7 separate regions of the Homo sapiens genome follow, and all the other regions are linked to region 5. Evidence: fine-mapped QTL for protein levels in blood plasma. A gene starts in region 5. Each other region holds a variant in brackets. All regions are shown on one strand. Distances are between the middles of the regions. Region 1 holds the start of SCAP (SREBF chaperone). Region 2 overlaps SCAP (SREBF chaperone). Region 3 has its middle 62 kb from the start of CDC25A. Region 4 has its middle 44 kb from the start of PRSS50. Region 5 holds the start of PTH1R (parathyroid hormone 1 receptor). Region 6 overlaps CCDC12 (coiled-coil domain containing 12). Region 7 overlaps SLC26A6 (solute carrier family 26 member 6).

What was found. PIP is the posterior inclusion probability: the model's chance that the variant is causal. The UK Biobank Pharma Proteomics Project read protein levels with antibody pairs (Olink). The fine-mapping took linkage between variants from a reference panel, not from the people measured, so its PIPs are less certain.
Region 1: its variant is fine-mapped to the plasma level of the PTH1R protein (UK Biobank, PIP above 0.99).
Region 2: its variant is fine-mapped to the plasma level of the PTH1R protein (UK Biobank, PIP above 0.99).
Region 3: its variant is fine-mapped to the plasma level of the PTH1R protein (UK Biobank, PIP above 0.99).
Region 4: its variant is fine-mapped to the plasma level of the PTH1R protein (UK Biobank, PIP above 0.99).
Region 6: its variant is fine-mapped to the plasma level of the PTH1R protein (UK Biobank, PIP above 0.99).
Region 7: its variant is fine-mapped to the plasma level of the PTH1R protein (UK Biobank, PIP 0.98).

Annotation. Positions count from the first base shown.
Region 1 is chr3:47,474,156-47,478,456 of GRCh38, forward strand. SCAP (SREBF chaperone) reads right to left here and starts at 1,786. Exons shown (of 23, transcript NM_012235.4): 1 at 1,644-1,786. It overlaps LOC105377073 (a long non-coding RNA gene), which reads left to right and starts at 1,790. Exons shown (of 3, transcript XR_940821.3): 1 at 1,790-2,209; 2 at 2,487-2,547. RefSeq lists a silencer at 1,334-1,873. The variant C/T (reference allele first, on the strand shown) is at 2,616.
Region 2 is chr3:47,461,315-47,465,615 of GRCh38, forward strand. The region is part of intron 1 of SCAP (SREBF chaperone); the gene reads right to left. Among named protein-coding and RNA genes, the nearest start is that of SCAP, 12 kb to the right of the region's middle. The variant A/C (reference allele first, on the strand shown) is at 2,434.
Region 3 is chr3:48,124,767-48,129,067 of GRCh38, forward strand. No RefSeq gene overlaps it. Among named protein-coding and RNA genes, the nearest start is that of CDC25A, 62 kb to the right of the region's middle. The variant G/A (reference allele first, on the strand shown) is at 1,717.
Region 4 is chr3:46,760,050-46,764,350 of GRCh38, forward strand. No RefSeq gene overlaps it. Among named protein-coding and RNA genes, the nearest start is that of PRSS50, 44 kb to the left of the region's middle. The variant G/A (reference allele first, on the strand shown) is at 2,696.
Region 5 is chr3:46,875,327-46,879,627 of GRCh38, forward strand. It overlaps PTH1R (parathyroid hormone 1 receptor), which reads left to right and starts at 2,395. Exons shown (of 16, transcript NM_000316.3): 1 at 2,395-2,517. It also overlaps a transcript of MYL3 not described here.
Region 6 is chr3:46,945,479-46,949,779 of GRCh38, forward strand. All of the region lies in intron 1 of CCDC12 (coiled-coil domain containing 12), which reads right to left. Among named protein-coding and RNA genes, the nearest start is that of CCDC12, 29 kb to the right of the region's middle. RefSeq lists a silencer at 2,761-3,055. The variant G/A (reference allele first, on the strand shown) is at 2,241.
Region 7 is chr3:48,623,018-48,627,318 of GRCh38, forward strand. It overlaps SLC26A6 (solute carrier family 26 member 6), which reads right to left. Exons shown (of 21, transcript NM_022911.3): 18 at 3,859-4,038; 19 at 3,614-3,668; 20 at 3,201-3,337; 21 at 2,706-2,983. The coding sequence ends at 2,969. Among named protein-coding and RNA genes, the nearest start is that of TMEM89, 3.4 kb to the left of the region's middle. The variant C/T (reference allele first, on the strand shown) is at 2,266.

The sequences.
Region 1 (4,301 bases), 600 kb after region 5:
TTGGGAGGCTGAGGCAGGAGAATCGCTTGAACCCGGCAGGCGGAGGGTGCAGTGAGCCGAGATGGCGCCACTGCACTCCAGCCTGGGCGACAGAGCGAGACTCCATCTCAAAAAAAAAAAGAAAGAAAGAAAAGAGAGAGCATTCAAACATCAGATCAGTTCATAATAAATTTAAAAAGCCTAATTCTTTCCATTTCAATTTATGACCAAAAGAATAAATATGGAAATATATTTATACAGTGTTAAATATATTTATATAGTGTTTTTTACATCATGTGCTCAGTGGGAATACTGCAAATGTGTAAAACACCTAAAATGTAAACTATATTAACACACATTTTAAAAGATACAGGTCTTGGCCGGGCACGGTGGTTCACGCCTGTAATACCAACACTTTGGGAGGCCAAGGCTTGTATAATGCTTGAGCCCAGGAGTTAAAGACCAGCCTGGGCAACACAGCAAGACCCCCATCTCTACAAAAAAATACAAAAATTAGCCGGGCGTGGTGGCACACACCTGCTGTCCCAGCTACTGGGGAGGCTGAGGTGGGAGGATCACCTGAGCCCAGGAAATCAAGGCTGCAGTGAGCCGAGATCGCGCCACTGCACTCCAGCCTGGGAGACAGAGTGAGACCCTGTCTCCAAACAAACAAACAAAAAACAAGTCTTTAGGCATCACTGAGGAACACCTAAAATGGATACAGCACTAACTAGACACCCTCGACCCTGACTCCCTAATAAAAGCGTCAGTCTTTTGCTCAATATCCTGACCTGACAGCAAACCAATAAAGACACGGCATAACCAAACTCCACAAATTTTTGGCCAAATAAAAGAAACACACGCAACGCTAACATTAAACCTTTTCTATGGCCGCTTCACGATAAGTATTACAAAATCCCCAGAAAGAGTTTATTCACCTAGCTCCGACTGTCGCCATACAAGGTGGAGCAGTGAGTGACCCGAACCAGGGGCTGACCCCTGCCAGAGCCCCCACAGCGACTCACTGCCCCCCCCTCCGCATTCCCATCTGCACAACTTTCTGTGATTCAAACAGTCCGGAGCCAGGGCTCCCTGCAACTAACGCTATCGTGACATTATAAGCCGGTTAAATACTGAGGTCATAAACCCACTCAGAAGTAAACAGAAGCAACATTAGTGAGCAAAGTTGAGGTTTAAGCAATACGGAAAACTAGAAACCAAGCAAAACCAGCAAAGCAACTAGCGTTGTCTCTCAATAAGATCTTCCAAAAGAGGCAAAGTGGAGAACCTGCTCTCCCCCGCACTCCGGAAAACCCAAACAGCACCAAAGCAGGTTCTACAACAGCTTCCCGGAGCAACTAGGCCAGGGGATGCGACGCCGCGCATCTCCCCCCGTCACACCAGGGGCCCGCGGAGGTCTGGTGGGGACGCGGAGCTCCAGGGGCCGGCCGGTGCAGGGACACGGCCGGGTTGGGGGTGGGGACGCGCGGCCCTGCCTCCTTGCCGGCCTGCGGTCTCCAGGGCCGGCCCGCACGGCTGCTGGACAGCGCCATGCCCACGCACCCCCGAACCTAGCGGCCCCCATTCCGGAACTCCCAGCTCCACGCGGCTGGGGTCGAGCTGGGGCCCGCGGGCAGGCGCCCTGAGCACCCGCGTGACGGTACCTGTGGTGGCAGCACCTCCCAAGCTGCGGCGGCGGCGGCGGCGGCGACGGGGGCGGCAGCAGGGGCGGAGCGCGGCGTGCGCGCTCTCGGCCCGCAGTCCGGTGCGTGGCGCCCTCCCTCTCTCTCCTGGCCGCCGGGTGCCCGCCCCTTCACCTCTCACCTCCTACCTTTACCCTCCCGCCCCGCCGCCCTCCGCACGTGCGCCCAGCGGCGTGCGCATGCGTAGTCGAACCACATTCGCGTCTCCCGTTCGCCCTCTGGTGGACACCGGAGGGAAGTATGGACGGCCGGGCCGGGCCGGGCCGGGCGGAGCGTGAAGCCGGGTTAGGGCCCGCCGGGTTTGGGCCCACCGGCTCTCATCGGTCATCAAGAACTTGCAGAAAGCCGGGCACGGTGGCTCGCGGTTGTAATCCCAACACTGTGGGAGTCCAAGGCGCGAAGATCGCTTGAGCCGAGGAGTTAGAGACCAACTTGGGCAACGTAGGAGACCTCCGTCTCCACAAGTAAAATTAATTAGCCGGCTGTGGTGGCGCGCACCTGTGGTCCCAGCTACTCAGGAGGCTGAGGTAGGAGGATCACCTGAGCCCGGGAGGTCGAGGCCACAGTGAGACAAAAAACAAAAAACCCACCCTGCACAAGATGCTCATGTTCCCTGTTTTATAATGGCAAAAAATTAGAAGCAGCTGGGCCGAGATACACTGCAAATGCAGATGAGAAGAATAAATAATGTCCATAAAACTAGTTTCCCTATAGACATTTAAAAGCATAAGTTGACATTTAACCATTTTCCACAGGGAACAGGTATTTGTTATAATAGCAACAGCTACGTTCACTGTTTACTAGGTGTCAGTTGCGGAGCTGGTATTGTACATGTCCTCGCATTTGGCCCTCCTGAAAATCCGAGGTAGGTCTTGTTACAGGGCCTCACAGAAGGGGAAGGGGAGGCTGCCTCCCCTCGAGGGAAACACAGGT[C/T]CCCACCTGCCCAGCTCTGGCCCAACTAGAGACGCTGCCCGGACCACTCTGGGGGGACTTTGATCATGCTACTGCATGCCCTTGCTGTACCCAGGTCTTGTGTCAGAGGTAAGCCTCCCCTCAGCCCCTGCCTACTGCCCGAGACACCCGCACCCACCCCAGGGCTACCTGGATAAGGCAGGCCCTGTACCTGCCCTCAAAGGCACCAGCAAACTTCTCTGGGAGTTCCAGAAAGTGCAGATCTAGTCACCAATGCAAGGCAGAAATTAGAGGTGGCCCTTCTGACCGCACCAGCCCCCGACCCACTACACATTCTTCAGATACCTCCTCCTAAAACCCAGTTCCCACCGGACTCTGGCCTCCCTCCTTGCCCACCACACTATTGTCACAATGAAAGTAACAATGGGGACAGTGGGCCTTGGCCCAAAGTGACTTTCAGGGTTATGACATTTTCAGCATTGTCTTTTGGCTTAATATGGGAATTTTGATCCTATAAAGAAAGTATTCGCTGGGCGCGGTGGCTCACGCCTGTAATCCCAGCACTTTGGGAGGCCAACACGGGCAGATCATGAGGTCAGGAGATCGAAACCATCCTGGCTAACACGGTGGAACCCCATCTCTACTAAAAATACAAAACAAACAAAAAAAAAATTAGCCGGGCGTGGTGGCAGGTGCCTGTAGTCCCAGCTACTCGGGAGGCTGAAGCAGGAGAATGGCATGAACCCGGGGGGCAGAGCTTGCAGTGAGCCGAGATCATGCCACTGCACTCCAGCTTGGGCGACAGAGCGAGACTCCGTCTCAAAAAAAAAAAGAAAAAAAAAAAGAAAGAAAGAATTTTTTAGGTTATTTTTATTTTTACATTTGAGGTCTCACTCCTTTACCCAGGCTGGAGTGCAGTGGTGTGGTCATAGCTCACTGCAGCCTCAACCTCCTGGGCTCAAGTGATCCTCCCAAGAAGGTAGGACTACAGATGAGCGCCACCATGCCATTTTTGTTTTTGTTATTTTTATCAAGATGGGGTCTTTTGCTGTGTTGCCCAGGCTGGTCTCAAACTCCTGGGCTCAAGCAGCCTTCCCATGTTGGCCTCCCAAACTGCTAGGATTACAGGCATGAGCCACCGTGCCCATCCTGTTTGTTGTATTAAATGAGAGAGAAGCAACAATAGAGAGCATTCAGGGGAACTTACCTACACCCCTTACCTATCCTGACATCACTCTCTCCAGGTCTGATCCCTTGAAATACCATCATTTGTCCCCTCAGAAACCTTGGGCATGAAGGAGTCCTCCTGAGCCCTGGGCCCACTGTACCAAAGTCTTCTCTCCAGAGAGGGTCAGGAGCCTGTCTTTTAACCACCTCCATGGCAGGACTTAGCCAGACTGCCTTGGGAACTGCTGTCATTCTCCTCACTCACCACCTCTTCCCACCCAACCACTCCATCAAAGCTGTGTTTGCAGAGGACTGACCCTCAGTGAAGTCTGGACACTCCCCCACAAAAAATAAGAGGCTCCAAAACTGACAAGCACCTAGCTAAGTACCTTTGTGCCTTGAAGCATGGCAAACAATCCTCCACTGCCCTAAGAGAACCCACTGAGAATCCTGTGGAGCCTCTGGGGAAGCTGGGGTTTATGGGGCCCTGGTAAATCTGCTACAGAATGCCCCCCATGGAATATAATGAAGTGGACATGA
Region 2 (4,301 bases), 590 kb after region 5:
CTCAAATTGTAAGGCCTGCTGTAAGTTTTAATTGCTTCTTTTTCATATCTATAATCTGGTACTAAGTAAAACTTTCCAGCTAACAGGACAACTGTGGACTGTGATATGCACTGGGACCACACAATTCTTCCAAATGTTCACAGTCACTTCTCAGACTGGAACTTGCTTGCCTTCCAGACATTTATAGAGACAAAGGAACAGAAAGCTACCAGATTTCAGAGCTAGGAGAGATGGGATCCTCCAGCACAATATCCTATTGGTAAGGAAGAAACTGAGGCTTAGGGAAGGTCATGCCAGATGACCCAGGTCATGTAGCAAATGACAACAATCAACACTCTGGTTCCAACTCCCAGCCCGGGGAACATTTCCATGACAGAGTTGATTCCCCAGCACCTCCCAACAAAATAATGTGTTTTAACCTATGTAAGAGCAGTCTAGGCCGGGCACGGTGGCTCACTCTTATAATCCTAGGACTCTCGGAGGCCGAGGCAAACAGATCACTTCAGGTCAGGAGTTTGAGACCAGCGTGAGCAACACGGTGAAACCCTATCTCTACTAAAAATACAAAAATTAGCCGAGCATGGTGACAGGCACCTATAATCCCAGCTACTTGGGAGGCTGAGACAGGAGAATCACTTAAACCCAGGAGGCAAAGGTTGCAGTGAGCTGAGATCACACTGCTGTACTCCAGCCTGGGCGACAGAGTGAGACTCCATCTCAAAAAAAAGCAATCTAGCATTCAGATTTAAATGTTTACTATAATCAGTGACAAAGTATTCTACTTCGTTTTGTGGTAAAAAAAAATTATTAACATAAACATCATTTTAACCCCTTTTAAGTGTACAGTTCAGTGGTATTAAGTACATTCATATTGTTGTGCAGCCATCACCACCATCCATCTTTTTTATCTTCCTAAACTGAAACCTTTTGTCTTAGCTAGGAGATCAACTTTTTCTTTTAACAAGTTTACTATATAACTTGTCAAAGGTTTTTCTGTAAAACAGTCATCTGACAGCCTCTGCCCCATCAGCTATACAACCTCTGCCCCATCGGCTATCTGTGTAGTAAAGGCACACGCAGTGAAGCCTCCATTCTTTCAATCTAAGGACCTGCCTGCTTGAAGACAGACTGTAAAACACCTTCATGGATGAGTTATGACTTATGATCAAACACCATCAGAGGCAGCCACTGAAAGGGCTGACCATAAAGACACTATGCTGAAATGAGAAACGCCTACAACCATCCTGGCTAACACGGTGAAACCCCGTCTCTACTAAAAATACAAAAAATTAGCCGGGCGTGGTGGCACATGCCTGTAATCCCAGCTACTCAGGAGGCTGAGGCAGGAGAATCGCTTGAACCTGAGAGGCGGAGGTTGCAGTGAGCCAAGATCGCGCCATTGCACCCCAGACTGGGCAATAAGAGCGAAACTCCGTCTCAAAAAAAAAAAAAAAAAAAAAGAAAGAAAGAAAGGAAAACACCTACTTATTTCCTAGTTGTGAGTGACATCATGTCCCTACTGATGTCCTAGAAGGTTGTGCTTCTCAGCCTCCCTTCCTGCTTCCCCATAGGCTTTGTTCCTGGCCTGCTTTCCTCATCTACCCTTTCTCCCCAGGGCTTCTCAGCCTGACTCCTGGCTCCAATTCTCATCTGTTTGCTGATGTCTCTTACATACACACCTCTCAAGCCTCTCCCCTAAGCTCCTTATTTACACTATTTCCACTTGGTATCTCCACTCAAATGCCTAATAAGCACTTCAAATCTAACAAGACCAAAAACAGAATTCTTGATTTCCCCACAGTAGCTGTTCTTTCCCAGCCATCTCAGTTAATTATACCACTAGCTACCCTGTTTATTCCTCCGGCGGAAAGTTTAGGAAACATCCTACAACAAGCCCACATCTGAAACAGCTGGTTACAACAGTTTTACCTCCAAGTCAGATCCCCAACCTGACCAACAATCATCATCTCCCTGGCTACTCTCCCATCACTGACCATGGGGACAGCAGGAATGCCTCTATTCATTCCTGCCTCATTCCATCCTCGATAAATCTTTCTAAAGCACAAATCACTAATGTCACTACCCTGCTCAAAACACTCCAGTGGGCCGGGGTGCGGTGGCTCGTGCCTGTAATCCCAGCACTTTGGGAGGCAGAGGCAGGCGGATCACTTGAGGTCAGGAGTTTGAGACCAGCCTGGCCAACATAGTGAAACCTTGTGTCTACTAAAAATACAAAAATTAGCTGGGTGTGGTAGTGCCTGTAATCCCAGCTACATGGGAAACTGAGGCACGAGAATAACTTGAACCCAGGAGTCAGAGGTTGCAGTGAGCTGAGAATGCATGACTGCACTCGAGCCTGGCAGCCTAAGTGACAAAGTGAGACTGTCCCTAAAAAAAAAACTAAAATTAAAAATTAAAAGAAAACAGGGGCTT[A/C]GCCTTGTTCACTGCTGAATCCCCAGAACTTTAACAGTGTCTGACACCTAGGAAGAATTCAATAAGCATCTGTTGACTTCTAAGTTTTTTGGTTTTTTGTTTTATTTTTGAGATAGGGTCTTGCTCTGTCACCCAGGCTGGATACAGTTGTACAATCGTGGCTCACTGCGGTCTCAACCTCCCAAGTGATCCTCCCATCTCAGCCTCTCACACTGCTGGGACTACAGGCATGAGCCACCACATCTGGCTAATTTATTTTATTTTATTTTTTAATATTTATTTATTTGAGACAGAGTCTCGCTCTGTCACCCAGGCTGGAGTACAGTGGCATGATCTCAGCTCACTGCAACCTCCGCCTCCCAGGTTCAAGCAATTCTCCTGCCTTAGCCTCCTGAGTAGCTGGGATTACAGGCGCTTCCCACTAAGCCTGGCTAATTTTTCTATTTTTAGTAGAGACGGGGTTTCACCATGTTAGTCAGGCTGGTCTTGAACTCCTGATCTCAGGTGATCCGCCTGCCTCGGCCTCTCAAAGTGCTGGGATTACAGGCGTGAGCCACTGCACCAGGCTTTTTTTATTTTTTGTAGAGATGAGGGTCTCACTATGTTGCCCAGGCTGGGACTGATTTGTGTTTTTTTTTTTAAAGTAGATATTAAACATACATCTCAGATGACAAGTGGAATTTATTCCCAAAGTGCAAGGATGGTTTAACAAAAATCAATTAAGGTAATATGCCACATTACTAGAATGAAGGAGAAAAACAATGATCATCCCAACTGATGCAGAAAAAGCATTTAACAAAATTCAAGATAACTTTTTGATTAAAAAATACTCAATGAAATAGGAATAGAAGGCAATATCCTCAACATAATAAAGGGGTATATATGAAAATCTCACAGCTTACATCACACTTGATGGTGAAAGACTAAAAGCTTTTCCCCTAAAATCAGGAACAAGACAAGGATGCCACTTCTATTTAATCCAGTACTGAAAAGTTTTAGCCAGAGAAATTAAGCAAGAACCTTCTCACTGCCTCATTTACCCTTTCTCTCCAGGCATCTCAACTGGACAGGAAGTAGTAAAATTATTTCCGTTCCTAGATGACATGATCTTACATGTAGAAAACCCTAAAGATTACACACACACACAGCTAATAAATGAATTCAACAAAGTTGTAGGATGCAAAATGAACATGCAAAAATCAGTTGCATTTCTATTGTTCACTGACAGTGAACAATCTAAAAACAAAATTAGGAAAACATTCCATTTATAATAGCATCAAAAAGAATAAAATACTTAGGAATAAATTTAAGCAAGGGAGACAAAAGACATAAACTGAAACATTGCTGAAACAAATTAAAGACGTAAAATAAAGGGAAAGAAATCCCACTTTCCCACTTTCATGGATTGGAAGATGATATTCTTTTTTTTTTTTCTTTTTTTTAGACAGAGTCTTGCTCTGTCACCCAGGCTGGAGTGCAGTGGCACAATCTCGGTTCACTGCAATCTCCGCCTCCCAGGTTCAAGCGATTCTCCTGTATCAGCCTCCTGAGTAACTGGGATTACAGGTGTATGCCACCACACCTGGATAATTTTTGTATTGTTAGTAGAGACAGGGTTTCACCATGTTGGCCAGGCTGGGAAGACAATATTCTTTAAATGACAACGTTATCCAAAGCTATCTACAAACGCAATCCATATCAAAATGCAATGCAATCCCTATCAAAATTCTAACAGCTGGCCAGGCACGGTGGCCCATGCCTGTAAACCCAGCACTTTGGGAGGTCAAGTGGGGAGGACTGCTTGAGCCCTGGAGTCCTCAAGACCAGCCTGGGCAACACAGTGAGACTCCATCTCTACAAAAAATTTT
Region 3 (4,301 bases), 1.2 Mb after region 5:
GCAACCTCTGCCTCCCGGGTTCAAGCGATTCTCCTGCCTCAGCCTCCTGAGTAGCTGGGATTACAGGCATGCGCCACCACGCCCAGCTATTTTTTTGTATTTTTAGTAGAAATGGGGTTTCTCCATGTTAGCCAACTGGTCTTGAACCCCTGACGTCAGGTAATCTGCCCACCTCAGCCTCCCAAAGTGCTGGGATTACAGGCATGAGCCACCGCACCGGGCCTAAAATTTGTTGCTTTGGTCAGTGGTTCAGTTTGGCTGGAGTGTAGGGAGCTTGGAGAGGGACAATGGGCAGAAGGAAAATCTTAGTTATTCATTGCCTCACAACAAATTACCTCAAATCTTCGCGGCTTACTACAACAATAAACATTGATTATCTCTCACAGTTTCTGCAGATCAGGAATTTGGGAATGGCTTGGCTGGGCGGTTCTGGCTTGAAATCTCAAGAATTTCAATCGCATTTGGATAGGGCTGCATCATCTGAGGGCTTGGCTGAGGCCAGGGGATTCCCTTTCAAGGTCGCTTACTCACAGGGCTGGCAAGTTGATGCTGGCTTTGGCAGGAGATCCCGCTTCTTCACCAGGTGGGCTCCTCCACAGGGCTGCTTCAGGGTCCTTATGATGTGGAGATTGACTTCCTCTAGAGTGAGTGGTGGGCATGGAGGCATGCACCTGCGGTCCCAGCTACATGGGAGGCTGAAGCATGTAGTGAGTGATCCAAGAGTCAGGATGTAGGAGGGAGCTGTAACCTCTTCACAGCCAAGCCTTTGAAGTCACTTCTATAGCATCACTTCTGCTACATTCTGTGCACTAGAAGCGAGTCATTTAAGTCTGACCCACTTTCAAGGGAAAGGGAATCAGCCTCCACCTTGGAAAGGGGAAATAGCAGAGAATTTGCAGGCATATTTTAAATCACCACAGACCATGAGGGCAAGAAGGTTTATCTGCTCAGAACTCAGGGGCTCTTCAGCTGAGTGGGACTCCAAGGGATCCAGCTTTCTGTGGGGATCCAGCAGTCCTGCCCTAGTGCCATGTATCCAAGGGACTGTGGGCTTCTGGCAGCAAAACCAAGAACCAAGGCAAGACCCAGTGCTGCCTGCTGTTGAGAAATCTGAAGTGGCTCAGACCAGGGCAGGGGGTGCTCACTGTCTGGCAAGCACATAGCAAGAGGACATGAGCCCTTTTCCCCCAAGAGAGTCAGGGAAGGCCTCCTGGGGGTGGCATCTGAGCTGCATTATTTCAGAGCTTTTATTAGGCCCATAGTGTGGGGCTGGGTGTATACACAGAAGGTTAAATGCGCCTGGTATGGTGCTCAGCAGGCATCAGAAGCCACGCAGGAGAGCTGAGGCCTGGGGAGACCCCCCACTGACCATAGCAGCAGATACTGTCTCTGCCCTGCAGATGGTGAGACCTTTCTAATGCCACTTGGTGTTGGCATACAGCTTTTCAGATGGGTGTGGACTGTCCCACAAGAACTCTGTGAGCTCTGTGGGGCGGCTAAAGTGCGCTGGAGATTGTACATGTAAACTTTGTTTGCTCATTTCCCCATTCAAATGTCCTTCAACATTGTTGGGGTCTTCTCCCACTTTCTGCCCCTACTTCTCTGAATGTGCTTACCCTATATGGGCCTGTTTACCTCTCTGCTTCTTCTTTTTTTTTTTTTTTTGAGATGGAGTTTCGCTCTCGTTGCCCAGGCTGGAGTGCAATGGTGCGATTC[G/A]GCTCACCACAACCTCAGCCTCCCAGGTTCAAGCAATTGTCCTGCCTCAGCCTCCTGAGTAGCTGGGATTACAGGTGCACACCACCACGCCCAGCTGATTTTTTGTATTTTAGTAAAAACAGGATTTCTCCATGTTGGTCAGGTTGGTCTCAAACTCCCGACCTCAGGTGATCCGCCTGCCTTGGCCTCCCAAAGTGCTGGCATTACAGGTGTGAGCCACTGCGCCCGACCCTTTTTTTTTTTTTTAAATGGACTTTCACTCTTGTTGCCCAGGTGGGAGTGCAATGGTGCGATCTTGGCTCACTGCAACCTCCGCGTCCTTGGTTCAAGCGATTCTTCTGCCTCAGCCTCCCAAGTAGCTGGGATTACAGGTGTTTGCCACCATGCACCTGGCCATTGAACTTTCTTTATCTAGGTACTACACATCTCCCCAGAACCAGAGAACAGCAATGATGTCAGTGGGAAATCCCAGGCAATTGGCACTAATGTCTACGGTGTAAACACCTACAGAGTGTAGTGGTTAAAATTAATGTATATGTAGTTAAGGCTGGGCAAGGTGGCTCACGCCTATAATCCTAGCACTTTGGGGGGCTGAGGTGGGAGGATCACCTGAGGTCAGGAGTTTGAGACCAGGCTGGCCAACATGGTGAAACCCCGTCTCTACTAAAAATACAAAAATTAGCCAGGATTGGTAGTGCATGCCTGTAATCCCACCTACTTGGGAGGCTGAGGCAGGAAAACCGCTTAAACCTGGGAGGTGGAGGTTGCAGTGAGCTGAGATCGCACCACTGCACTCCAGCCTGGGTGATACAGTGAGACTCCATCTCAAAAAAAAAAAAATTAATATATATGTAGTTAAAATTAATTGAGTTGTATACATATTACCTTTCACTGTATATAAATTATTCCTTTATTAAGCAAAGCAAATAATATTAGTAACCCTGTACCTGATGCTCATCATAAGAGAGACCCACACGTGTGCTAAGTAAATGAATCAAATCACATTACCCAACAGACCTCATCCTGTCTAAGACTCAGTAGGGGGTAGGGTTTCAAAGAAGTAAAGAGTGGCACTTTTTGAAGTGCCAGCTTGTCTTTCTGGAGTCCCTCAGTGTTAGCGTTTAAATGCAAGCATTAAGCCCTCTCAATACTTTTTGTTCACTTCTCTAAAATTTTGGTAGGCTGGGCATGGTGGCTCACACCTGTAATCCCAGCGCTATGGGAGGCACAGATGGGAAGATCACTGAAGGCCAGGAGTTTGAGACCAAACGAGGTCCCATCTTTAAGGAAACAAAAATTTTTTTTTTAATTAGCCAGGATTGGTGGCATGCACATGTAGCCCCAGCTACTGGGGAGGCTGAGGCAGGAGGATCACTTGAGACCAGGAGTTCGAGGCTACAGGGAGCCATGATTGTACCACTGCACTCCAGACTGGGTGATAGAGCAAGACCCTGTCTCAAAAAAAAAAAAAAGATAAGTAGGCCTGGAACAGTGGCTCACACCTGTAATCCCAGCACTTTGGGGGGCTGAGGCAGGCCAATTCCATGAATCCAGGAGTTCAGGACCAGCCTGGGCAACATAGCAAGACCCCTTGGCCGGGCATGGTGGCTCACGCCTATAATCCTAATACTTTGGGAGACTGAGGTGGGCGGATCACCTGAGCTCAAGAATTCAAGACCAGCCTGGCCAACATGTGAAACCCCATCTCTACTAAAAATACAAAAATTAGCCAGACTTGGTGGTGGGCACCTGTAATCCCAGCTGCTCAGGAGGCTGAGGCAGGAGAATCGCTTGAACCTGGGAGGTGGAGGTTGCAGTGAGCCAAGATTGCGCCATTGCACTCCAGCGTGGGCAACAAGAGTGAAACTCCATCTCAAAAAAACAAAAAAACAAACAAACAAAAAATCATAGCAAGACCTCATCTCAAAAAAAAAAAAAGGGAGAGAGAAGGCCTATGGCCTTTGGTCAGCACCCTTTCTTGGCCTGGAACGTCCAGCACAAGGGGCAAGTGGGTCAGAAGAGATGAGCTCAGGGCTGGGTGCGGTGGCTCGTGCCTGTACTCTCACCACTTTGGGAGGCTGAGGCAGGCAGATCACCTGAGGCCAGGAGTTTGAGAACAGCCTGGCCAGTGTAGTGAAACCCAGTGTCTACTGAAAATACAAAACTTACCTGGGCTTGGTGGCGCATGCCTGTAATCCCAGCTACTTGGGAGGCTGAGGCAGGAGAATGACTTGAACCTGGGAGGTGGAGGTTGCAGTGAGCCGAGATCCCGCCACTGCACTCTAGCCTGTGTGACTCTGTCTCAAAAAAAAGAAAAAAAGAAAAAAAGAAGAGACGAACTCAGGGCACATGAGACCATAGCTAGGAGCACACATCTACCTTCTGCATTACAACAGGCTACTCCCCTCCCTGTCCAAACAATCTGGGTGAAAGCCACCTCCAAGCATTTCTCCTGGCATGCATCACCACCCCAGAACCTGCCCAGAGATCAGCACTGATGTCAGTGGGGAATCCCAAGCAATCAGCAGAGGGGTGTGCAGCCTGATTTCTCTCTCTGGGGCACCCAGGTGAGAAAAACCCTGCCC
Region 4 (4,301 bases), 120 kb before region 5:
AGCCTGGCACATCCATGTCCCCTCTCTTGCTTCCTCTCTTGCCATATGATCTCTACATACTAGCTCCCTTTTGCCTTCTGCCATGAGAAAAAGAAGCATGAAGCTCTCATGAGAAGCAGATGCTGGCACCATGCTTCTTTACAGCCTAGAGAACCATGAGCCAAATAAACCTCTTTTTCTTATAAATTATCCAGCCTCAGGTATTCCTTTATAGCAACACAAATACTCCCCCTTGAGTATTAAACTGAGTATTGGTCAGTGCATGTCTGTGAGGAAACGACCTGAAGCTAGAGAAATAACCACTGAAAAGAATTAGAAGTAACAATGCCTGGTGCTCACACAGGGCCAAGAATAGAGCCTGCTTCCATTAGTTGGACAAAGAAACTCAAGATTCACAGAGCACTGGGTAGAGTATCCAGGAAGGTCTTGCCTCAGCAATGGGGAATAATTAGGCCTAGACTGAGAATTGTCCTGCTTAAAAAATCTTAAAAGCAAGATCTGAAAAGATCAAACAGTTTCCAAGTAATTTAAATGCATCCCCAAACAAAGCTCAAGAATATTTATGAGAATATGAAAATATCAAACAGCCAACAAGGTAAAAGTCACTATGTCCAGTATCCAATCAAAGAATACCCAACATGCAAGAAGCATGAAAATACAACTGATTATGAGGGGAATCATCAATTAATCTTATCCTCTCCAAACTGACACAGATGTTAAATGCACAGGCAAGGGCATTAAAACAGTCATTATAACTTTAAGTTATACATATACATATATATTCAAAAAGTTCAGGAGAGATATCTAAGATGAAAAATGACCCAAATCAAACTTCTAAAAATGAAAACTACCATGTATGTCAGAAACACACTCACGGGATTAGTAACATATTAAACTTTGTGGAAGAAAAGATTAGTAAACTTGAAAACCTAACAATTAAAAAAAATTTGACCGGGCGCAGTGGCCCATGCCTGTAATCCCAGCACTTTGGGAGGCCGAGGAGGGCAGATCACCTGAGGCTGGGAGTTCCAGACCAGCCTGACCAACACAAAAATTAGCCAGGCATGGTGGTGCATGCCTGTAACCCCAGCTACTCGGGAGGCTGAGTCAGGAGAATTGCTTGAACCCAGGAGGCAGAGGTTGCGGTGAGCCGAGATTGCGCCGTTGCACTCCAGCCTGGGCAACAAGAGGGAAACTGCATCTCAAAAAAGAAAAAAAAAATTCAAAATGAAACAGAGAGTGTTAAAAGAAAAAAAGAGAGAGAGAGAGAGAACATCAGTGAGCTGTGTCCTAATGTGTGAGTATTTGGACAAAAATATTTAAAGAAATAATGTTCAAACGTTTTTAATTTGATAAAAACTATAAGCCCACAAATCTAGTAAGCTCAATGAACACCAAAGAAAGAAACATGAAGAAAACTAAACCAGGCCAGGAGTGGTGGCTCACGCCTGTAATCCCAGCACATTGGGAGGCTGACGTGGGCAGATCACCTGAGGTCAAGCGTTTGAGAACAGCCTGGCCAACATGGTGAAAGTCTGTCTCTATTAAAAACATGAAAACTAGCTGGATGTGGTGGCATGCACCTGTAGTTCCAGCTACTTGGGAGGCTGAAGCAGGAGAATTGCTTAAACCCGGGAGGCGGAGGTTGCAGTGTGCCAAGATCGCGCCACTGCACTCCAGCTTGGACAACAGAGAGAGACTCCATCGAAAAAAAAAGTATATATATGTGTGTGTGTATATATATATATATATAACAAGTATGTGTGTGTGTGTGTGTGTGTGTGTGTGTGTAAAACTAAACCAAAGCACAACTTAATCAACTTGCTTAAAACCAGTGATAAAGTAAGTACAGAAGAATAAAGATAAGGATGACAGTAGATTTCTCATCAGAAGCTGTACAAGCAGGAAGACAGATAAGCACCATTTTTTAAGTGCTAGAAGAAAAAAACTTCTAGAATTTTATTTCAAAAATGAAGGCAAAATACAGATTTTTTTCAGGCATGCATAAGATGAAAGACTATCACCAGCAGATCTGCACTATAAAAAAGTTAAAGTCATTCAGACAGAAGGAACACTAAACCAGACGTAAATCTGGATTTACATAAAGAAATGAAGAGTGCTGGGAAAGACAACTGCACGGGAAATATGTAAGATACTTTTCTTTTATGTAAATATCTTTGAAAGATAATTGAATTGACTATTTAAACAAAAATAACAATGTACAGTGAGGTTTGTAACACGTATGCAAGAAGATGTATGACAGTAGCACAAAGATCGGGAGAGAGAGAAATATAAATACATTGTGTGTGTGTGTGTGTGTGTGTGTGTGTGTGTGTGTGTGTGTGTGTGTGTGTGTGGTTGGGGTTTTTTTTGCGTTTTTTGTTTGTTTGTTTTTGTGTTTTTTTTTTGAGACAGAGTTTCGCTCTTGTTGCCCAGGCTGGAGTGCAATGGCACAATCTCGGCTCACTGCAACCTCCGCCTCCCGGGTTCAAGCAATTCTTCTGCTTCAACCTCCCGAGTAGCTGGGATTACAGGTGCCCACCACCATGCCCGGCTAATTTTTTGTATTTTAGTAGAGACGGGGTTTCACCAGGTTGGCCAGGCTGACCTCAGGTGATCCACTGCTTCGGCCTCCCAAAGTGCTGGGATTACAGGCGTGAGCCACTGCGCCTGGGAAATATGTTGTTTTCAACCT[G/A]AGAAAGCTAATTGAAAAAAAAGAAAAAGAAAAAGAAAGAAAAAAGAAATATGTCATAAGTTTTTTATCCTAAACGTGAAGTGGTATAGTATCACATTCAGCTGCAAGAGCTACAAAGTTCTCCAGGATAACAGCACAAAGAGAAGACCAAAAGCCAAGTGGAGGAGGCAAAAACAAGGTATTACTGACAGACTTTTAAATCTCTGGTGCCCATAGCCACAAAAAAATTCAACTCTGGTAGCTACAACAACAAATTAAAGCACAGCCCACTCCCGATTAGAGTATCACAAATCTCCGTAATAACCACCAAGCAGAAGGAAGCCTGTGTTTTTCTCCAAGCATAGAAAATATTTATATTAGTTATCTCCTGATACAGTAACAGAAATGGAGAATGTCTAACTTTCAACAAAAATTACAAGGCAAATCACAAGGCAAAAAAAAAAAACACAGTCTAAGAAAAAGCAATAATCAGTACTAGACTCAGATATGACATAGATGTTGGAACTGTATGTATATTTAGGAAAGACCTGAGAAGACCCTAATCTCTCACCTCCAGCTAGCCTTCTGACATGTCTATGCATGTCAGAAATGAAAACTAAGAATGCTAGGGCAAACTGAAGTGTTGTAGACATGCCCCAACAAACAGAGCTCCTTAGCACAGGCTGGAAAATTTGTTGATTTAAGGCACTTAAGAAAATCTCTAATTATTAGCTGAGCACTAAAGCTAACAAGCAGAGATTTCATGGCCATATATGACAAAGAAGAGGCTTACAGAGTTAGTTTAGAAAAGTCACTAACCAAACAAACAGCAGCAGCAACAACAAATAGCAACAATAACAAAACAAAACAATAACAAAACCTGAGGAAGGTGAGAATGTGATTCCCATACTTACAACATATAGTATTTAAACTGTTTCTGTTAAAAAAATTATGTAACATGCAAAGAAACAAAAAAATATGGCCTGTACCAAGGGTGGGAAAACAGGGAAAAAAAGTCAAAAGAAACTGCCACTAGGAAGCCCAGAAGTTGAACTTACTAGACAAACAATTTAAGTAAGCTATTTTAAATGTGTTTGAGGAACTAAAGTATGCTGTCTACAGAAGTAAGGAAAGTATGAAAATGCCATCTCGCAAAATAAAAATATTACCAAAGAGAAATGATTTTTTTAAATAGAAAATCTAGAGTTGGAAATTACAAACACTGAAATGAAAATTCACAGGAGGAGCTCAGAAGTAAACATGAGCTGGCAGAAGAATCAGTGAACTTAAAGATAGGTCACTTGAGATTATCTACTCTGGAAGACAGAAAAGTAAAATAATGATGAAAAATAAACAGGGCCTCAAAAACCTGTGGGACTCCATTAAGTATGTCAACATACATATAATGGAAGTTCTGTGCAAAGAGGAGAGAAAGGGGGAAGAAAAGATATCTAAAGAAATAATTGCCTACCATGTCTCAAATTTGATGAAAAACATGAATCTACACATCAATGAATTCCAAATAAAATAAACTTGAAAATATGCACATTTCAAAATTTTATAAGCAAAGAGTTGCAAGACAATGACAAAGAGAGACTCTTCAAAGCAGCAACAAGGAAGCAATGCA
Region 5 (4,301 bases):
GGAACAGACCAGAGACTTGCCCTACTCCAGTGGGATGCAAGCCCATGCCCACACTGCCAGGGAGTGGACTGTCAACAACCCAAGGCCAGGTATGCAGCCTCAGCAAGGACATCAGCTCCGCTTTGGACACAGCAGTCTCAGCCTTGCCTTGAGGGTCATGCAATTTGAGGACATGCCCTCAGGAGCCTAGTCTGAGGAGACACCCTTCTGGGGCCTGATCTAAGAGAAATCAGTTTTGATGGCCTCGTGGCCATGGAAGGAACCCTTCAACCTCCACCACCTCCCTGGATTTCCCAACTGCTCCACAATGTGCATGGGGCAAGAACTGTTACGACGCTGCAAATACCTGGAAACTCAGGCGAGTCTCAGGCTCCCACCCACCATCCCACTTATGCCTCACTCATGCCCCACCTGCTGCCCACAGCTCCCAGCAGGTCTGGGGGCGGCATCCAGCCTTGGCATCCAGGCGTTCTGAACCTCAGGGAGCCCCAAAGGGTTTATGGGTCTCCCAATGAATGGGAGCCTGTTGAGCTCGGAGGGGGCCGGGCCCGAGTAAACATGGCTGGGTCTGAGCTGCCATTCTCCCCCTACCTCTTCCCCAGAACCCAGGACCAAAATACAACTTCCTGTCCCCGGAGCTGAGGGCCAGACTTGCCCCCCAGAGCCCTGGGCTGGGGCCCACAGGAGGAACGCAAACTGGCAGGCCCAAGGCTCGAGGAGAGAAAGGCCTTCAGGTTTTCAGACTCCCAGGTCTGCTTGCATCCAAGACCCAAGTGCCTGGGCACTTTACAGATCCCCTTTGAGCCTGAAACTGCCCAACTGTTAACAACAGATCAGGAAACTGAGGCCATGAGCAGGAAGGCGTCTGGCTCAGGGATCCACAGGTCAAAGCAGAAAAGGCCCCAGCCTCCTGCTTCCCTGGCCAGTGAGGATGGGGCCTGTGGGCAGGGTAGGGCAGTGCATGTGGACTCAGGGGAGGTAGAGGCTCTGGCAGTCAAGAGCCAGGGCAACAGGGAGGCTTGACAGAGCACAGGGGAACTCTCCCTCCTTTGGGCACAACTGCCCACTGACCTCCGCTGGCCTGGTCACAGAATAGCCTACGTGTCCCAGGATACCCCTTGGAGCAGTGCACTTCAGAGTAGCTGGGGCAGGAGTCCCATAAGTGCTGTTTGTCATAGTTTCACTATGTCCCCTGGCCAGTCCATTCTGCTCTTTGGTCCCGTTTCCTCCACCTGGAGGCCAGGTATCACCGAGCCTGCCTCCCTGACTAACTTGTGAAACAAAAAGTACTTTGGAAACTCTAATGAGTGGTACCCTCCCCAGGAGCCTGGAAGACCCAGGGAGGGGGGCCCTAGGAATGTGCCCAATGGCTGGGGGTGGTTGGGGCCAGCTGCCTCACATGCAGGGCACTGGGGGCTACAGCTGGAATGTGCTGAGTGGCAGCTGCCACGTGAATCATTATACCTCATCAGGCTGAGCCTAGGACTTCCAGACACAAACCAGCTCAGACTGGGCTCAGGCAGAAGGGCAGCCTCCAGCCGGGTCACAGGGCCTGGGGGTGAGGTTTCTGGGATCTTGCAGGGTCTCTGCCTCCCTGTCTGCCCACATCTTCATCCTGAGCAACCAGCCCTGGTTCTGAACACAGCTCGTTCTACAGACCCACAGAGAGAAGTCATCCTGTCCACAGCCCCCTGCCTTTGAGACCTGTGACAGCTTAAGCAGACCCTGGGCCTGGAAGGGCCTGGGAGGCAGATAGGGAGGGCTTCCTGGCTGACTCCTCACCAGGAGCCCACATTCCAGTGGGCAAGGAGTCAGATATGAGGTGGCTGTGGGGCTGTAGGGGTCAGGACACGGGCTGGAGTGGAATGACGGCCCCCTCCATCTCTTCCGTCTAGGAGCCACTGGGTACCCAGTGCTGGCAGATCAGGCTTTCTTGGGCCTCAGTTTTCCTGCCTGTGACACAGGCAAGAACCACCTCCAGCCCCCCTCTGATTTCTCTGGGTGCCTTAAACTTGAGTGAAGTCACTAGTAGGGGCTGTGTTCATACCTCGTGGCAGCCTGATATTCCTGAGATGTGGAAAGGACCAGAGGGTTAGACAGGGACACAGAGACTAAGAGAGAGGCATGGCAGGGCAAGGAGAGGACTATTGAGGCACACACACGTGTCTGGCAGCCTGAGTGGGCCCAGTTACCTGGCAGGCAGACCCATGGGTGCTGAGGGGAGGGCCCAGCCCTGGGCATCTGAACACCGGCACACTTGGATCTGCCTCTGTTGCCTCCTACTCCTGACTAGGAGCCTGGGACAAAGTCCTGGGCCAGTGTAGGGCTTGGTAAAAAATAATTAATTTTCTTTTCAAGTGGAAGCTCTGACTCAGGTCTTTTCTTGTCCCCAGCAGCACTATCCTTGCTTAGGCCTGAGCCACAGAAGCTGCTCAGGGACTATCCATGGCCTCCCCGTGGCCAACTTGAGTCTGCTCTGCAGCTTTAGGCCCGACTTGGAAGGCCCATGGGCTGCAGGTGAGTGGGGGCCAGGGGAGCCTAGGGGCCTGAGCACAGCTGGGAAGCCCAAGTCTGTGGTTTCCCTGGGGGTGAGTGTCTAAATACCTGGGCCGTGCTATGGGGCAGACAAGACATGCCCGCATGGAGACACATCTGTGGACCTGGTGTTATGACAGCAGGGGGCTTGTAACCATGAGGCCAGCAGGGACAGAAAGCCCATACCTCTAGCTCCTTGGGAGCCTTAGGAGTGCTCCCTGGTTGGGACAGAGCCTGCTGGCCCCAGGTGCCCCCATCGCCCCTCCCTTCACCTTCCTGAGAGGCAAGAAAGCCAGGCAGCCATGCTTCTGCTGCAAGGGAAGGGGGCTACCCAGCCAGCTGCCATGGGAGCCTCCAGCGACTCAGCTGGGTGTCAGGGGGTGTTTATGAGCAGCCGAAATGGCTGTAAAAGTGGCACCTCGCTTCACTTATGGCCTAGCCATCCCCTCCCCTACTGGGCTCTTGCCTCAAAAAGTTTCCAGAGGGGCCTAGAAGCCGAGAGAGGTCTGGGGTTGAGGGCTGGGTGGAGGCACAACCTGGGGTCAGAGTTCAGCCAGGGGCTAGAAATCAGACTGGGATAAGAACTCAGCCTGAGGCTGGGGCTCATGATGGAGATAGAGCTCAGTCTGGGATCAGGGCTAAGCTTGGATGCAGCCTGACTTTGGGGCTAGTGTTGGGATGAAGCACTGGGGAAATATAAGGACTCAGAAATAGATGTGAGCCATTAGTCCCAGAGAACCCCTGGTCTGGCCAAGGGGTTTTCTGAGGGAGGAAGGCCAGGCTGCATTGCTCAGACAGCTGAGCCTCTTGCCTTGCTTGTTGGTGTCTGATGCCCACCCTGGCCCCAGGGTCTGTGTACCTTGGCCAGAGCCCTACTCACGGTGGGATGGCTGCAGCAGAGGCCTGTCAGCCTGGGGCTGCCACACCAGCAGGGGTGGGGCCAGAGTCTGGCCCCTACTGCAGTTCTGAGATCCAGTGACCACCCTGGCTCCTCCTCCTAGGCCCCAGCCTGGGGATTAGAGACAGGGACTCACTCCTACTCCCCACCCCCAGCCAGGCCTTTTCAAACCCCATTGAAACTAACACTGACCTGACACTAACCAGAAACTGACTCTGAGCCCCTGGGGCGTGCTTGTCAAAAAGGGCAAGCTGACTCTGCCAGGTGCTTGGGTGCTACCAGTTAATGTGTGACACCCCCACCCTCATGGTAGCACTTTAACCAGAGGCCCGAGGGTGAGAGAGATGATCTGTGGCCCCACCCACAGCTGTGGAATGTCCAGCAGGGGACTCTGGGGTGAGGCACATGAGTTATGGCAGGAGGAATGCCCTTAAGGGACCCAGCACCCATCAGATTCCTCTCTGCAGCCCTCTCCACAGCCCACCCTCATCCTCCCAAGTACAAGTAGTATGTTTCCAAATCTCAAGTTTTCCCTGGTGTCAGATCTGAAAAGAACTCCTCCCCTCAGCCTCTAGTTTTATCTCTCAGTCCTTCCAATCCCTCCATTAATGTTCTTTTCTCATCACCAAGGGGGAAAGCAGGGTGGAAGATCAGTGGTCACAGAACCATAAAACTTAGAGACACTTAGAAACAGAGGCATAGGCCAGGTGCGGTGGTTCATGCCTGTAATCCCAGCACTTTGGGAGGCCGAGGCAGGAGGACTGCTTGAGCCCAAGAGTTGGAGACCAGTCTAGGCAACAAAGTGAGACCTCGTCTCTACAAAAAAAAAATTTTTTAATTACCCAGGTGTGGTAGCTCATGCCTGTGG
Region 6 (4,301 bases), 70 kb after region 5:
GGATTTCAGGGGGTCTCAAATACAGCCCTGCTCAGGACAGAGTCTGACTGACCTGTTTCCTAATGTTTGAAATCCTTTTTATCAGGGACAAAACTGTTACAAATAAAATTAGAGCTGTGCAAAGTTGGTATTGTTTCTTCCTTAAATGTTCAACAAGACTTCAGTGAAGCAATCTTGGCCTGAAGTTTTATTTGGGAAAATATTTGTTATAGGACTGTATAGATTTTCTATTTCTTCTCCAGCCAGTGTTATTAATTTATGTCTTTCAAGATGTCTGTTTCACCTAAGTTATTGAATTTACTGGCACAAAGTGACTTATATTGTTCTCTTAATAGCCTAATGTCTGTAAGATCTGTAGTGATGTTCACTGATATTGATAATTTGTGTCATTTTTCTTTATCAGACCAGCTAGAGGTTTATCAATTTTGGGACGTGCCTCCATCTCATCTCCTCAGACTCGGTGTTTCAACAATGGCTTTGCTCCTCAGTCACCTCTCTCTGGAAGGATCCCTCAATGGATGAGTACACCTGCCTCTGGATGGCACATGAAGCGTGGGGGCAGAATCAATCCACATTGCTGTCTGAATGTAGTACCACTGCTAGAAGCAGGTCAATCAACAACCAGGCCTACAGGAGGAGGGAGGAAGAAGAGAGGCTGCTCTATGTCCTCCTCTTGCCCCTTCCCACCCACAGTAAGATGAAGATCTCTTTCCTTGCACCCCTCAGTCTCCTTTGTGGGCCAGGTCTACCTTGGGCACAAAGATAAAGTAAGAACCCTATCGTCAAGAATCTCAAGTCTACTCAAAGGATCAGACTTAGAAAATGTAACTCTGTGCCATGAGTAGTAAGGAAAGCTTTACTAAATATCTTGTACACTTAGGGAATTAGCAAGGGATAGGTGTTGTCGGGGAAGGAAGTAATGCTTAAACTCAATTCTAAATGTCCACTGGGGGATTATGAGGCAGCTAAAGAAGGCAGAGCATTCCTGGGAGTGGTAACTGCCTACAAAGACATGAGAGCGGAGCAAGAGCACTGTCACAGCCTGCAGAGCAGGCCCACATGGCTGGCCCAGCCTCACCTGATGCTGTCAGGGGCAGGGCTCACAGGGCATTCCTCCAGCACCGTGGGAGGGCTGAGCCCAGCATGAGGGCCGACACCCTGAACGGGCACTGTGGTAGCCTACAAGATGTGTCATGGGAGGAACGGGGAAGACCAGAAGTCAGGTGAGATCCTCCACTCCCAGCCTGGACCTGCCCCAGCCTGCTGCTGTCTGTGTGTCTGTGTTTGGGAGGGGGGTTAAAGTTAAAATGAGGGCTGGGAACTGTCACTGGGGGCGGGTGTGCCGAAGCAGGAGGACTTGAGTTCAGGGGATGAGGAATAAGCCCCTCCCTCTCCCTAAGACTTCCCAAGGACTCAAACTTTTAGGAGCTGCTGACTAGAGCTCTCCCTTCCAGAAGGAAATAAGAGAAGCAGGAAAGGGTTAAGAGAGAGACATTCAACTTCTCATCTAGGGTCTTCCCACCCTTCTTTAGCTTCCTGAAGAAGCTAGAGACTCACCAGGAACTCATGGGTACAGAAACACTTTCCAATCCCCAGGTGATATGCCCCATTAGCTCTGAGTACGCCTGCTATAATGTCCATGGGAAACTGCCCTCTGTTCAAAAGTTAAAGAGAAAATAAGACCTCGAAATCCTAGCCCCCTAAGAAGAGGCCAAACTGGCCCCACTTTGAGCCTTTCCAGTTCTGATTTGGGCCCAGGGTGGGGAAAAAAGCAAAAGAGATGGGCACATAGTGCCTGAAGGTGACAGGAAGAGACAGACAATGCTGGGGCAAACTTGGCAGGCTCCCCAGTGTCACCTTGTGCCCATCCTCAGGGCCACTGCAGCCCCATGCCGGGGTGGAGGGACTTCCTGTCGGGTGCTGCCGTGGTGGGAGCTGTGTTCCAAGGGCACTTAGCGGGTAGGGCAGTCACCCGGAGTCTGACTCACCCTGAAGATGGAGTGATAAGAAGTGAGCTGAACACCACCATGCCTGGGACCAGAAACTGCACAGATCTCTACTGCCCAGAGACTGGCAGGGGGAAAGGGGGAGAGACTCTGCTTCTCCTGGGCAGGCTGAGATCTCGTCAGGCTGCAGAGCTCCTCACTCTGGGTCCCCTGCACTCAATGTGCTGCTAGGATGACTTGGTCCGAGTATCCACTCTATCTGCTGACCAGACCAAGAGTTCCTAGAGGGCAGAC[G/A]TTTGTTGTACCAGTTTGCACCCACAGGCCTGACACCAACTACAGCAGGCACAGCACTGTGGTAGAGGAGTGCACAGGAGCGGGGAAATCCCAGCTCCATTTCATCTTGGCTGTGTGACCTTGGGCAAGTTATATGACCTGTCTGGCCTCAGTTTCCTCATCTACAAAAATGAGGATAATCATACTGACATCATATCACCATTACAAGGAAATGATGAAGGAGAAAAGCCTGCAGCTTAGGGAGCCTGAAGAACAGGGAGAATCAGGCCAGGGCAGGAAGGAAAGGGCTGCAGAAAAGCCAGCGGGGCACAGGCCCAGAACGGTGTGCCTCTGCAGAGGTCATGGGAAGCTCCCATGCCCATCATCCTTATCAGATGTTCTCAGCAATCCTGTAAGCAGACAGGGCAGTGTTGTAATACCTGCTTCACCAAGACATTAGGAGATGACGTCAGATGATCTGTGCAGTGTAGACAGATCTGATTCCCCATTCAGTGCTTCACCAAGAGTCAGCAGGAACAGGTGGTGACTACCATCCAAGAGGCTGGGATTAGCTAAGAGCCACTGCTCTCCTGTGGGTTCATGTGTTCCCTAAAGGCTTCTGAGCAGAGCAAGAACAAAGCGCTGAGCGGGAGGCTGGGAGAACAGCGAGGCTAGAGATAAGGACTGGAGATAAGGACGGGAACTAGGTCAACAGCGGTGGACTAGAACAAGGAGGTGCCTCAACGCTGTGGGGAGACAGGGAGGAGCAGAAACAACTGAGGTTCTGCTGGTGACTCACTGGGGGAAGGAAGGCGCCTTTGACAAAAAGGTGGTGGCACTTAGGGGACAAAGAGAAAGGGTGTGGCAGCCTTCAGGCATTCTAACGGTGAGGCTTGACACCCAAGGCCTGACGAAGGTTGGTGCCAAGGGATAGCACCTGTCAAGGTGCCCTCAGCGGTGGAAAGGAGGGCCCGCTCCACTCAGAAGAGAGGCACGCTGGGCCCCACCATCCATATGGCACCTCAAGGGCCAGGCCACGGCATGCCTAGTGCAGCTCCTCGCCAGGCCCGTCACACGGCCCTGCCCAGATATCCTCCATGTGTCTGTCAGGAGTGTGGGGAGCCAGCCCAAGTCAACTCTGATCCTATTCTTGCTGCAAGTGCTCAAGGGAGGCACTACAGAGCTCCTCCAGCAGACTTTATCAGTCGACAAATACTGACTGGCTCCCCTGTGGTACTCCATGCTGTACTCAGATACTCCATGCTGGGTACTGAGGAGGAAGAGGAACGAGTAGGCACCTAGTGCCCACAGAGCAGGGCAGGGGTTCTTATCCTCGGTGCACAGATTCCAGAGGTCAATGACCAGACAGAAACACAGGCGAGTGTGAGAAGGTGAATCTTAGTGGATGAGAAATCTGGAGCTCTTCAGATTCTCAAGGGGGTGGTGACCCACAGGGGAAAAGGGAAGGTGTCAACAGCCAGGGAAGGCAGTGTTTTTTTGGGTGGCATTAAGAGGTGTCTACAGAGGCTTTCCAAAGGAAGTGTCACCTTAAAGGATGAGTGACAGTGGGGACAGAGGGACGGAGGGGGAAGAGAGCAGAGGGAACAACCAGAACCATTAGTATGCAAAAGGCCCCTCCCACTGCCCTGAGACTTCACCCACACTGGCCCCAGCAGGAAATAACCTCTTGAAAGGTCACACAGAGGGCAGGGCAAAGACCAGTCTCTTCCCCTTCCTTCATATGCAGCCAGACTGGACGAGTTCCTCTGGGAAGTCTGGCCTGGCTCCAAACTCCCTCCAGGGTCCTCCCTGTAGGGGCACTGTGGTATGCAGGAAGCCCAGCCTGCAGCCCTGGACTGGGCAGGTGGTGGGAACATCAGGACACACTGCTTACCAGTGGTGGGACCTCCCTGAGGCTCTGTCTCCTCCCCTGTCAAAGTGGGGCTGGCACTACTTTAACAGGGGCATGTGAGGATTATACAAGGCAACTTGGGTCCACCATGTGGTACAGGGTCCCGCATGACCCTGCACCATGAAAAACTGCCTGCTGGCCGGGCACAGTGGCTCACGCCTGTAATCCCA
Region 7 (4,301 bases), 1.7 Mb after region 5:
AAGCTGAGGTGGGTGGATCACGACATCAGGAAATTGAGACCATCCTGGCTAACATGGTGAAACCCCGTCTCTACTAAAAATACAAAAAAAAAAAAAAATTAGCTGGGCGTGCTGGCACACCCCTGTAGTCCCAGCTACTTGGGAAGCTGAGGCAGGAGAATCACTTAAACCCGGGAGGCAGAGTTTGCAGTGAGTTGAGATCATGTCACTGCACTCTGGCCTGGGCGACAGAGCGAGACTCCATCTCAAAATACAAACAAACAAAAACTAGCTGGGGCTGGGTGCGGTGGCTCACCCCTGTAATCCCAACACTTTGGGAGGCCAAGGCAGGAGGATCACTTGAGGTCAGGAGTTCAAAACCAGCCTGGCCAATATGGTGAAACTTCGTCTCTACAAAAATACAAAAATTAGCTGGACATGATGGTGGGTGCCTGTAATCCCAGCTATTCAGGAGGCTGAGGTGGGAGAATCACTTGGACCCAGGAGGTGGAGGTTGCAGTGAGCCAAGATCGTACCATTGCACTCCAGCCTGGGCGACAGAGCGAGACTCCGTCTTGGGTGGGGGGAGGTGGGGGAACTAGCTGGGTGTGGTGGCATGTACCTGTAGTCCCAGCTACTTAGGAGGCTGAGGCAGGAAGATCGCTTGAGCCCAGGAGGTCAATGCTGTAGTGAGTGGTGATCACAGCACTGCACTCCAGCCCGGGGAACAGAGCAAGAGCCGATTTAAAAAGAAAAAAAAAAAAAATCCACACGGCCCCTAAAACCTTTTGCTTTCCACCAGGGGCATCACCTCTCTAGGCTGACCAAACTCGCAGGTCCCCCACACCCAACCGCAGCCCCACAGTCCACATCGCAGTTGGGTGAGTGCTCAAAGATGTGGGATCAAAATCCACAGGCAGCTCCCCCGCTGTCAGAACAAAGCCCAAAGTCTCCCCCTGGACTGTGAGGTCCCCCCACCCTCTCACCTCAGCTCATGCTGCCCCTGCCTCCCACAGGCCTGCCTCAATACCCCCACTGCCAGCACCACAGCTCCCCAGGCCTAGAAAGTCACCTTCTTTCTTATGGCTGGAATTTCAGTTCCAGGGTCACCTGCTGAGTCCCCCTCCCATGAGCATCTTGGGTAACATATGACCTCTTCTATCACGTGACCCTGCTTTATTTTCTTCAAAGCATTTCTAACTACCTGCAATTTCCTGTTTGAGGTCTAAACTGCCCTCTCCAACATATAAGCTTCATTCAAACAATATTTACTGAGCAGCTGCCAGGCACCATTTCTGATGCTAGGACGTGGTGTGACAGAGTAAATAAAAGCTCTTATTTCCTGGGGCTGAACTTCTAGGCCATGAGTTGGGGGGTGGGGGGTGATGGTGCCAGGCACCAATACAGACCATGATAAAACAGAGCCAGGCAAGGGTACCTCTGCGATTTGAAGGGCAGGGTGGCCTCTGTCCATGCTCAGGATGGTGCCCAGACCCCTGCACAGAGCCTGGCACCTGCTCAGCACCTGATGAACAGCAGTGCTCGCATGTTTGGAGGAGAGGACCTGAGCCCAGCATTGTTTTCGCATTTCCTGGCATTTCCTCATTTATTTTTGAGACAGGGTCTTGCTCTGTCACACGAGCTGGAGTGCAGCTCCCTCCAGCATGATTTCAGCTCACTGCAACCTCCGCCTCTTGGGTTCAATTGATCCTCCCACCTCAGCCTTCCCAGTAGCTGGGATTACAGGCGTCCAGCACCATGCCCAGCTCATTTTTGTATTTTTAGTAGAGATGGGGTTTCACCTGCCTCGGGCCTCCCAAAGTGCTGGGATTATAGGCCCGGCATCTACTCATTTAATATTCACTGAGCAACCCCTGAAGCAAGAATTGTAGCCACTCACGCTCTACCGATGAACAGCACACTGAGGCCCAGACAGATCCTAAGACCCGGTCCCTCCCCTGCCATCACTGTCAGCTGACCCAACGCCCCACTGCCTGCTGGGTCACATGCCCAGATGTCGGCATTTAATGGCAGAAATCAACACACACTCCTTGGCTGACAGTGTTCTACCATGCCCAGGTGATCTGTCACCCATGCGGGGCATGATCTGGGCTCATTGCAACCTCTGCCTCCCAAGTTCAAGCGATTCTCATGCCTCAGCTTCCCGAGTAGCTGGGATTACAGGCATGTATCACCACGCCCGACTAACTTTTGTATTTTTAGTAGAGGTGGGATTTCACCATGTTGGCCAGGATGTTCTTGAACTCCTGATGTCAAGTGATCCAC[C/T]TGCCTCTGCTTCCCAAAGTGCTGGGATTACAGGTGTGAACCACCGTGCCCGGCCCGGTCATGCTTATTCTTAAGCATAGAGCAGCAGTGTGGGGGAACAGCTGCTCCTAGGTGTTCACTCTGTATCCTCCAGGGACTGCCCATTGGCACCCACGCTGCCCTGTACCTTCTCGGGTATTCCTGAGAGCAAATTATTCCTGAGAAGCAGCTCTGGTTCCAACTGTTTCACATCTGAGGAGACAGCGAGTGAGGGCTATGCATGGCTGGGGAGAGACCTTAACAGGGGATGCCTCCACAGCTCCCCTGCTCTGTACCCTAACCTCCCGAGTCCTTCCTACACCTTCTGCCCCGTCTCACCTTCAGGGCACAGGAAGGGTCAGCAGCCACAGCTGTGGACCACCCACCACCAGGGCCCCACCAAGCCACAGCAGAGACTGGAGTTGAGCAGACAAATCTTTATTCCTGAGGCTAAAATATGCACCAGTTCCCTCCCTGTACCGCGCCACTGCCAGCCTGACTGCATGCAGGCCCTGTCCCAGACCTGGAGCGCTGAACTTGGAGTCCCAGGACCTCCTTCCCTGAGTTGTGTGTGTGTACATGGAGGGGACTCCTGGGTAGCACCTGGAGGCGGCCTAGGGGTGAGGGGCTTCTCAAGGGTGCCCTGCACCTCCAGAGGTGCAGTCTTGGGCAGGATGTAGCATGTTCAGAGTCTGGTGACCTGAGCAGGCAGAGGAGGGGAGGCTCTAGTCAGTTTCCAAAGGACACAGACCAACCCCCGCCCCTAGAACAGCTTTATCCAAAGACAGCGGAGAAAGCACTGGGCCCACTGGGGACAGAGCCATGGCCACCAGGAAAGACTCCCTGGAGCTGGGGCCAGGGTGGGGACAAGCAATAGATTAACAAAAAAGAGCTTGGCAGGCCAGAGGTAGGCTCACCGAAACAGGGCTGTCGGGGACAGGCCTCGGGTGTTGGAGGGCAAAGGTGACAGCATCATGGACAGAGGCAAAGAGATGCTTCTTGGTGATGGATGCATCGAAGAAGTGCCCAGCCTCAAGCTGGCTGACCACAGGGCCTGTGGGCAAGAAGTAGGCCTCCCCTGACTCTCAGAACCTCTAGGAACTCAACTCCCGGGAGCCAACAGAATGCCCTGACCTCATCACCCCTGACCTCCACCCCTGAGGCTACAGCTGAATCCACATCACTTGTAACCCTGGACTCCTGTCTCCCAGGACACCTCTGACCTCCAGTTCCAGAGAAAGACTTTTTCCTTGTGCTACTTGGAAAACCCCTTGGCCAAAAGTATCCTACCCTCTTCCCAGGTCCCTCCTGCTGTTCCCACCCTACTCACTGTGGCAGGCCGCCATGTACACCTCCACCTCAATCTCCCGGAAGTCATGGAAAATCTGTAGCGGAAAAGGGGGCCAGCCTCAGAGGGAGGCTCAGGGACTCAGAGGGGGGCTCGGGCAGGCTTGGGGAGGGAGTTTAGAAGGGGAGCTTTGAGGGTTTGGGGAGTCAGAGGCTGGGAGTGCTCTCAGGGCAAATTACAGGGTCAGTGTGGAAGCTCGAGGGGCCTTGGCCTGCCCCCGTCCTTACATTCTTCAGGCTCTTGAGGCACACAGTGTCCACAAAGGAGAGGGCACCCAGGTCCAGGATGAGGCTGTGGAAGTCTGGCTGAGGCAGGCCCAGGGCCTTCAGTGTGGACCCATCTGGGGCCTTGGAGTCTTCTTGACCATTGGCTGTTGCATCTTCCATCTTATCTCCTGAGCTCACCTGCTGGGGAGCCAGACATGCTGCCAGGGCCACCCATGAGAGAGTGAAGGCAGGACTGGCCGCACACAGACACGCGAGAACACGCAAGGTCAGATGGGGAGCATGCATGGGACACATAAGGACACAAACATGCGGGAGTCACATAGGTGTGCAAAGACAGGAATGACAGATGTGTGGGGACATGCAGGAGGGCACACCCAGATGTGCATATACTGCTCTGCTACCTCCTGGGCCGACGCTGCACAGGGACACGAGAAGGGAGTCCC